Homo sapiens: one gene and its partner. The protein of the gene in region 1 interacts with the protein of each later gene in a pairwise test. Each region holds a gene or a part of one and is shown in the gene's direction. Other genes may lie near its edges.

What was found.
Region 2: the proteins of TACC2 (region 1) and GRAMD4 interact in a two-hybrid assay, tested with the Homo sapiens proteins (one large-scale study listed by BioGRID).

The regions. Positions count from the first base shown.
Region 1 is NC_000010.11:122,212,511-122,216,351, forward strand, and holds part of TACC2 (transforming acidic coiled-coil-containing protein 2), read left to right. Parts: intron 1-831; coding exon of another isoform or gene 832-867; intron 868-2,880; coding exon 2,881-2,941; intron 2,942-3,841. UniProt on the Homo sapiens protein: Plays a role in the microtubule-dependent coupling of the nucleus and the centrosome. Involved in the processes that regulate centrosome-mediated interkinetic nuclear migration (INM) of neural progenitors.
Region 2 is NC_000022.11:46,623,386-46,626,885, forward strand, and holds part of GRAMD4 (GRAM domain-containing protein 4), read left to right. Parts: intron 1-3,365; coding exon of another isoform or gene 3,366-3,414; coding exon 3,415-3,500. UniProt on the Homo sapiens protein: Plays a role as a mediator of E2F1-induced apoptosis in the absence of p53/TP53. Plays a role as a mediator of E2F1-induced apoptosis in the absence of p53/TP53. Inhibits TLR9 response to nucelic acids and regulates TLR9-mediated innate immune response.

The DNA.
Region 1 (3,841 bases):
GGCCCCTGTGGTTAATATCTTGGCGATTTCCTTACTCTTACGGGAAGTATTGTCAGTAATTTAACAAGGCTGAGGAGATCAGTCTCCCAGGGGCAGCAGAACAGACCACAGCGCTGGCCCCTCTGGGTCTGCCTGGCACGAAAGAGACAGAACGACATGTTTACCTCCCATTCTGGGCTCCCCCTAACATTGAATTTCTGAGAAGAACCCAGGGCCTCCTGAGAGGAGGTCTCTACAGCAGGTTACCTTAGATCAACCTGCCACTGTCTAGTGGTGGCTGGAGGCCATCCTGGCCAAAATGGGGACTTTGTTTTAGATCAGTTACTCAACTAGGTCCCTACTAGAGACTCTCTAGAATTCACGTTGGAAACTTGATTTCAAGCCTGGAATAGGAGAAGTCTGCAATGGCTAGACTGCAAGGCCGTGCTCTCTCATCTGGAATGAGAGCCAACCTTAGCCGCCACCTCTTCCTTCTCCAAGATATGTTCTGTGTCTCATAGGCGTCCCCAGTCACTTTCTTGTTTGAATATTAGAGCTAACAGGGGTCAGGGAAGTTTACCCAACTGTGTCCTCACCTCTAGTGCAGACAGGGACTTTGGCGTGGAAGACCCTGCGTGGGTCTGACAAAGCTCTTGGGGCACCACGGCTTTGTGGGATCATTAGGATCAAGAGAGGAAGCTGTTCCCCAGCAGCTCCTTCCAAAAAGCTGGGGCATTGCCCTACAGCGGTGGCCGCCATATCCTAACCCATTAATAACCAGTTGTCTGCAGATTTATCTTTTTTGTCAGTTCCTTCTGTCTGTCTCTCTTTTTCTTTGTCTTCTTGTCTTAGGATGGTTGAAGATGTGATGTCTGTGTGTTCTCTGTTGTAAGTAAATTTAATGCAATCTGCCTCTTATGCCAAATGTGCTTATTTTTCTGCCTTTTGTTTCTGCTTCCAAGCCATTTTTATTTCCCCTCTGGCTGCTACTGATGTGTTTCTGTGGTGGGCCTGCGAATGATGGGGCATGGGGCTCCCCAGTAGCAAAGATTACTTTTCTGTTTCATAGTGATTTGCATAAGAGACTGCTTGGCTGTGAAAATGTGATTATCCAGCATCTGCCTGCTTATCAGGAATGGAACTTTTTTCCTTCCCTTGCATATTGGATGTCTTCATCTGAAATCAAACATTTTTTTTAAACTCTTCATTACATTTTTTCATTTTAAACTGGGCTAGTGGGCGATTGCTTTCAACACTACTGTGGCTTCACGTTAAAATAACTGTCTGGTCTAACCACAGGCAGCGACGGCCACAGCTTATTCTTGCTAACATGTAAAGCAGAAATATTTGGGCCGTTCCAAATTGAGGCCCACAGAGTGCCCTGAAATGCAGGGTCAGTGCAGAGTGGAGCACACAGCTGTGAGAGCCATCGCCAGGCTGCCCCAGTCCTGCATCCTCAGTCACCCAGGACCTGGCTGGGTGTCGGCATGCCTTGTCTGCCATCTGTGGGTCACCCTGCCACTTGTCAGTAGAAACAGAGCTGACCATTTCTGTGCCTCTGCTGCTTTGCCTCCCATGGCCAGGAGGGATCTGTGGGCAGCTCGGGGGGGTCCAAAGACATGCAACTTTTCCCTGTCCTTAGAAGGGAAGCCGGCCAGTCCAGGTGGCCAGCAGTCCCAGGATAGGGTCGAGTCCATCAGACTCTCTTCTGCCCAAGGGATTTCTTGAGTATTTTTGAGCCACTTAGCAACTATAAAATATATGGTTATATATTTATATGCATGAATAAATATATGCTTCAAGCTGCGATTGCACTGTTTTAATGGCAAATATTATAAATGCTGTAAATAGCCATTTATTTTTTTTTCATGATTAAATGCCATTGTTGGAGTGATTTGAGAGAACACAAGGAAGGAACTTGAATGCCAAATTGCTCTGCCCACCCAGTTAACATGCAAAGCAGGGGAGGGTGGTGGGATCTAAGGAGAGGGATCACCCCCCAAAGCCTTTGCTTTGCTGGGAGTGGGACCAACCCATGGAGGGGCTGGAGACGGGGCAGGGGCCAGTCTACAGGGTGGAAAGAGCCCCCATTCTGACTGTGGAAGTGACCCCCAGACTGCTCGGTGGACTTAATGGAACTGCTCAGGCTAAAAGGCATCCCTTTCTCCTGGGATCTGCTTCCTTGACCCTTCAGGAGTCTGATTTGGTGGTTTCCTTTGCCTCTCAGCCCCGCTATTCATATGGAGGAGAAAAAGGGAGAGAAGAGCTGTGAATCTTGTCTGTTTACCATGGTTAGGAGAAGACAAAAAAAATCATCTCTCCCCTGGCCCTACCTTTAGTCAGGATTCCACCTAGAAGCCTTCAGAGCATGGGAATCCATTGAGCTCAAAGATCCTGTGATAGGGAGGATTCAGGAGGTTCTCCTTGAGGACCCCGAACTTTCTATTTCTGCGTGGCCCCCTTCAGTTGTTCATTAAGTGAGGTGTCGCCTTGCCCGTCTGTAAATTGGTGTCCTGAGCCTAGAGCCCCTCCCCTAGCCTTAGTTGGGTTCAGATACCCCTGGAAGAATCCAGATAAATTAATCTGCTCACCAGAAATTTGCTTTATAAAATACGAACATTTAGTTAAATTTAGCTTCATTTTCTGGGTCATTCTCCAAAATGGCATCTCTTTAAAGATCTCCAGCTTGATGGATCTTTCCCTTGGGGGCAAAAATAATAGCTGTTAAAAAGTGAGAGTGGGTAGCCGGCGTGGCCTCTCGCTGGTGCTGGAGTGACAGAGGTGGGAGGGTGGCCTGGGCCAGATGGCTCCGCAGAGGCAGTAGCTTCGGTCCGCTCTGTACTGCTCTGGAGTGTTCCGTCCCTCTGCTTGTTGTGTTTACGTTTTCCATTTTGTTTCCAGTGACACATTTAGGGTGAAAAAGTCGCCAAAACGGTCTCCTCTCTCTGATCCACCTTCCCAGGTACAGTGTTCCTTTGATCTTGATGGTTTTATGCCCCCCCCGGGGGAGGTTTTCTTCGCTTGTTGACAAAGCTTTGCTTTCTGCTCATCCCGGGCCTGTTTCCAAGACCCTCTTCTTGCATTCTGTGTGGAGGGTCCCTCGATGTTTGCTTCACATTGTTTTGGTCCCTTCACTTTGCGGAAGATCAGAGTGTGTCCCGAGAGTGGGAAGACGTTCAGGAAAAACATTAGTTGGGCTCTGGAGGACCCACTCTGCTCCATTCAGGCCAGTTCATCTGCTGTGAACTTCTAGGACTGTCGAGATGAGAAAGTCTCTTGAGATGAACAAATATGCAGTGAGAAGGTGAAGAAACTCAGCAAGTGTCAGGAGCACTGAATTGTGCAGCCAAAATTGGAGTGGGAAGAAAAGGGAAGCCCCTCCCCTAAAGAAGTGGGGCTTAGGTTCTGTCTTGATTAGAGTCCCTCTTACCAGTTCCTCCATCAGATAGATTCCATTTCTTCTACCCTGTTTACAGACCAAGGAAAGTTATCGTCAAGCCTGTCAGTATGTTAGGGCTAATTTCTGGGTCATAAAACAAAACAGACCTGCCACCCCTCCAAATCTGAGCCAGCAAAGCCCCAGCCTGCAGACCCTGGCCAGAGTGGGGGCAGTGGAGGGAAGCACTCAGCCCTGGGGATAGGGGCTCAGGTCCCAGCTGCAGCTCTGTCCTGACCTCTCTAGGTTCCCACCCTGCCCTACTCCACTTCCCACTCTCCAGTGGAAATGGAGATAAGATCCCCCTTTTTCTGCCTCCAGGGACTGATGAGATGCTTGTCAGGTGATTCTGGTGATATTGATGTGCAGGCCTGAAGCACTGTGTGAGCCTCGCACAGCAGTCACAGTCGTAAAACTAGCAGGAAT
Region 2 (3,500 bases), on another chromosome or scaffold:
TATTTTATTTTATTTTTTTTGACACAGAGTCTCACGCTGCCCCCCAGGCTGCAGTGCAGTGGTGCAGTCTCGGCTCATTGCAAGCTCCGCCTCCCGGGTTCATGCCATTCTCCTGCCTCAGCCTCCTGAGTAGCTGGGACGCTTGGACTACAGGTGCCCGCCACCTTGCCTGGCTGACTTTTTTGTATTTTTAGTAGAGATGCAGTTTCACCGTGTTAGCCAGGATGGTCTCGATGTCCTGACCTCGTGATCCGCCCGCCCCGGCCTCCCAAAGTGCTGAGATTACAGGCATGAGCCACCATGCCCGGCCTAGTTTCCTTTCTAGTGAGCTTGAAGGTTTTCGCGTATTAGGAAGTGGTCTTGTCATTTTTGCTACATTGACTACATTGTCAAGCTGCCTTTTTTTTTTTTTTTTAAACAGAGTCTTGCTCTGTTGCCCAGGCTGGAGTGCAGTGGCGTGATCTCGGCTCACTGCAACCTCCACCTCCCGGGTTCAAGCAATTCTCCTGCCTCACTCTTCCAAGTAGCTGGGATTGTAGGCGCACATCACCTCGCCCAGCTAATTTTTGTATTTTAAGCAGAGATGGAGGTTCGCCATGTTGACCAGGCTGGTCTCAGACTCCTGACCTCAAGTGATCCACTCACCTCGGCCTCACAAAATGCTGGGATTACAGGTGCCAGCCACCGCACCTGGCCTAGTCAAGTTGTCTTGTAACATGGATATTAATCCTTCATGTATCATATTTGTTACCTGTATTCCTTGTTTTATAGCGTATTTTGACATTTTTTACTTTCTTTTTACAAATGAGAGCTTTTTACTTTTGCCTGGTGGCCTGTTAGACATTTTTACTTAGTGGCTTTTTTTTTTTCAGTCCCTTAATATAGACTCTTCCATCTTCTTCTCTCTAGGGATTTCATAGCTACTAAGTTCCCTCTTCCTTTTTTTTTTTTTTTTTTTTTTTTTCTGAGACGGAGTCTCACTGCCCAGGCTGGAGTGCAATAGTGTGATCTTGGCTCACTGCAAGCTCCGCCTCCCGGGTTCAAGCAATTCCTCTGCCTCCGTCTCCTGAGTAGCTGGGACTACAGGTGCCCGCCACCACACCCAGCTAATTTTTGTATTTTTAGTAGAGACAGGGTTTCACCATGTTGGCCAGATGGTCTCGAACTCCTGCCCTCGTGATCCGCCTACCTTGGCCTCCCAAAGTGCTGGGATTACAGGCGTGAACCACTGCTCCCAGCTGTTCTCTTTTCTTTTAAGGTTTGTGTGTTTTTAAATTGACTGAACCTTTAGTCCCTCTGCAATTTGTAGCTCCTATATGGGAAGCTTTTCCAAATGGCTGGCTCATGCTCCCTCAGCCTATGAGCAGCAGTTGCTACCTCCCCATCACCCACATCCCCCTCCTGGGGTCCTCCCAGCTTCCAGGGGATGCTGGGCATCAGGACAGCTCCCCGTAGAGCCTGTGTCCTGTGGGATTTTTTTTTTTTTTTTTTTTGAGACAGAGTCTCGCTCTGTCACCCAGGCTGGAGTGCAGTGGCGGGATCTCAGCTCACTTCAAGCTCCGCCTCCTGGGTTCATGCCATTCTCCTGCCTCAGCCTCCTGAGTAGCTGGGACTACAGGCGCCCACCACCACGCCCGGCTAATTTTTTGTATTTTTAGTAGAGATGGGGTTTCACCGTGTCAGCCAAGATGGTCTCAATCTCCTGACCTTGTGATCCGCCCGCCTCGGCCTCCCAAAGTGCTGGAATTACAGGCGTGAGCCACCGCGCCCAGCGTCCTGTGGGTTTTGCAGCAGGGCCGGCATCAGGAATACTCAAGTGCCCATCCCAGGAGAGCCTCCCCTCCCCTCACCATGCTGGGAACCTCCGCGCCTCTGTGGCTCAGAGTGGGTTCTAGTGCGTTCTGTGTCTTCGGTCCTCACTGTTAATGAGTCTTCTTGCCACGAACTGTGATGCTGAGGAGAGCGGAGGAGGCTTTGGGGGCGGGGCAGGCATGTAGGAGCTGGAGCTGACCTTGCTCTCAGTGCTTCCTTGCCATGCTGCCCGCCCCAAGCAGGAAGTTTGGGAAATACCCCCGCCAGGGATCACTCCCCGCCCCATCTCCTTGCTCCTGGCCCAGTTGCCCTGTCTTCTTGAATTCCTGGATACCTTTGCCTTACTGGCATCTTTCCATTTTCAGAGGCAAAAATGTCAGCTCAGAAAGCTGGTCAGTGGCAGGACAGGCTTTCAGCCCAGGTGTGTACAGAGCAGTCCTCCCACGGGGACCCAGTTGTCTTGGACAAGTTGGGGACGGGGTTTTGGGAGAGGCATCCAGGCCATGGAGCTGCGTGATGGGGCTGGGGCTGGGTGGCCTCTCCCTGCCTGGCTGGCCCCTCCTGTGGGCCACTGATCCTGGCCTCCAGGCTTTTGGGGGTGCCTTGGTGTTGCTGGCCAGGTCGGGCAGCGATGTGGGGAGCAGTACCCCACGGCACATCCGCCCTTTGGCACGTGGTGTGTGTGAATTACGCGTGTCCTGATGCAGCACACAGTGACTCGCACCTCAGTGTGACCAGGTTTCTGTGTTGATTGGAGGAGGAGGCAGGCATGGGGGCTGGGACAGGAGGCCCAGCTGGCCATGGGTGCCTGACCCCGCTGTCTCTGGGAGGGCTTCTGGGAGGTGGTGCGATCTGAATGTGTCTCAGAGTATGAGCCTGGTCGCATGGCGAGTAGGAACACGCTTTAGGCAGAGGGAGCAGTGTGGGCGGAGTCCTGGGAGCCGGGGCCAGGTGGAGCAGGTGGGACACAAGGCCAGGTCCCCTAGGTCCAGGAGAGAATCAACCGAGGCATCCCTAGCACACGCATCTGCTGGTTTCCAGGCGTGGCTGCCGTCCTGGTGGTGTATGTGGCCGTCGTGTTGACCACGTTCTTGACGGTTTGTTAGGCAACCTTTTGGCATGGCTGGCCCTCCTTCCCAATGCCAGAGCAGCATTCTTCCCTTGCGCCTGCGCGCCGCCTCGCCGAGCCAGGCTGAGAACCCTGGCTTCCTTCTGCCTGCTGGGAGCCGGGGGCCTCGCTTGGTGGGAGGCAAGGACGCAGCTCAGCACTGACCAGGCTGGCCTGGGTGGGGTGGCCAAGGGCCCCACCTGATGGGTGCAGGGCGGGGGTCTCTGGGTCGGGGTTTTCTTTGGAAAGCTGGACCGGCCGTGCCCTGCGTGTGGGAGCTGGCTCGTGGGGCTTGGAGGTGTGTGTGGGAGGGACGGTGGCAGGGCGGGGTCTCTGGGTCGGGGTTTTCTTTGGAAAGCTGGACCGGCTGTGCCCTGTGTGTGGGAGCTGGCTCGTGGGGCTTGGAGGTGGCGAGCGGGAGAGTGACCACGCCCCTCTCTTGCAGGGAACCCGAGCGTCATGTTAGGGTGAAGCAGAGGACCTCAGTGCTGAACATGCTAAGGAGGTTGGACAAAATCAGGTTCAGAGGTCACAAGAGAGATGACTTCCTCGATCTAGCGGAGTCTCCAAATGCCTCGGA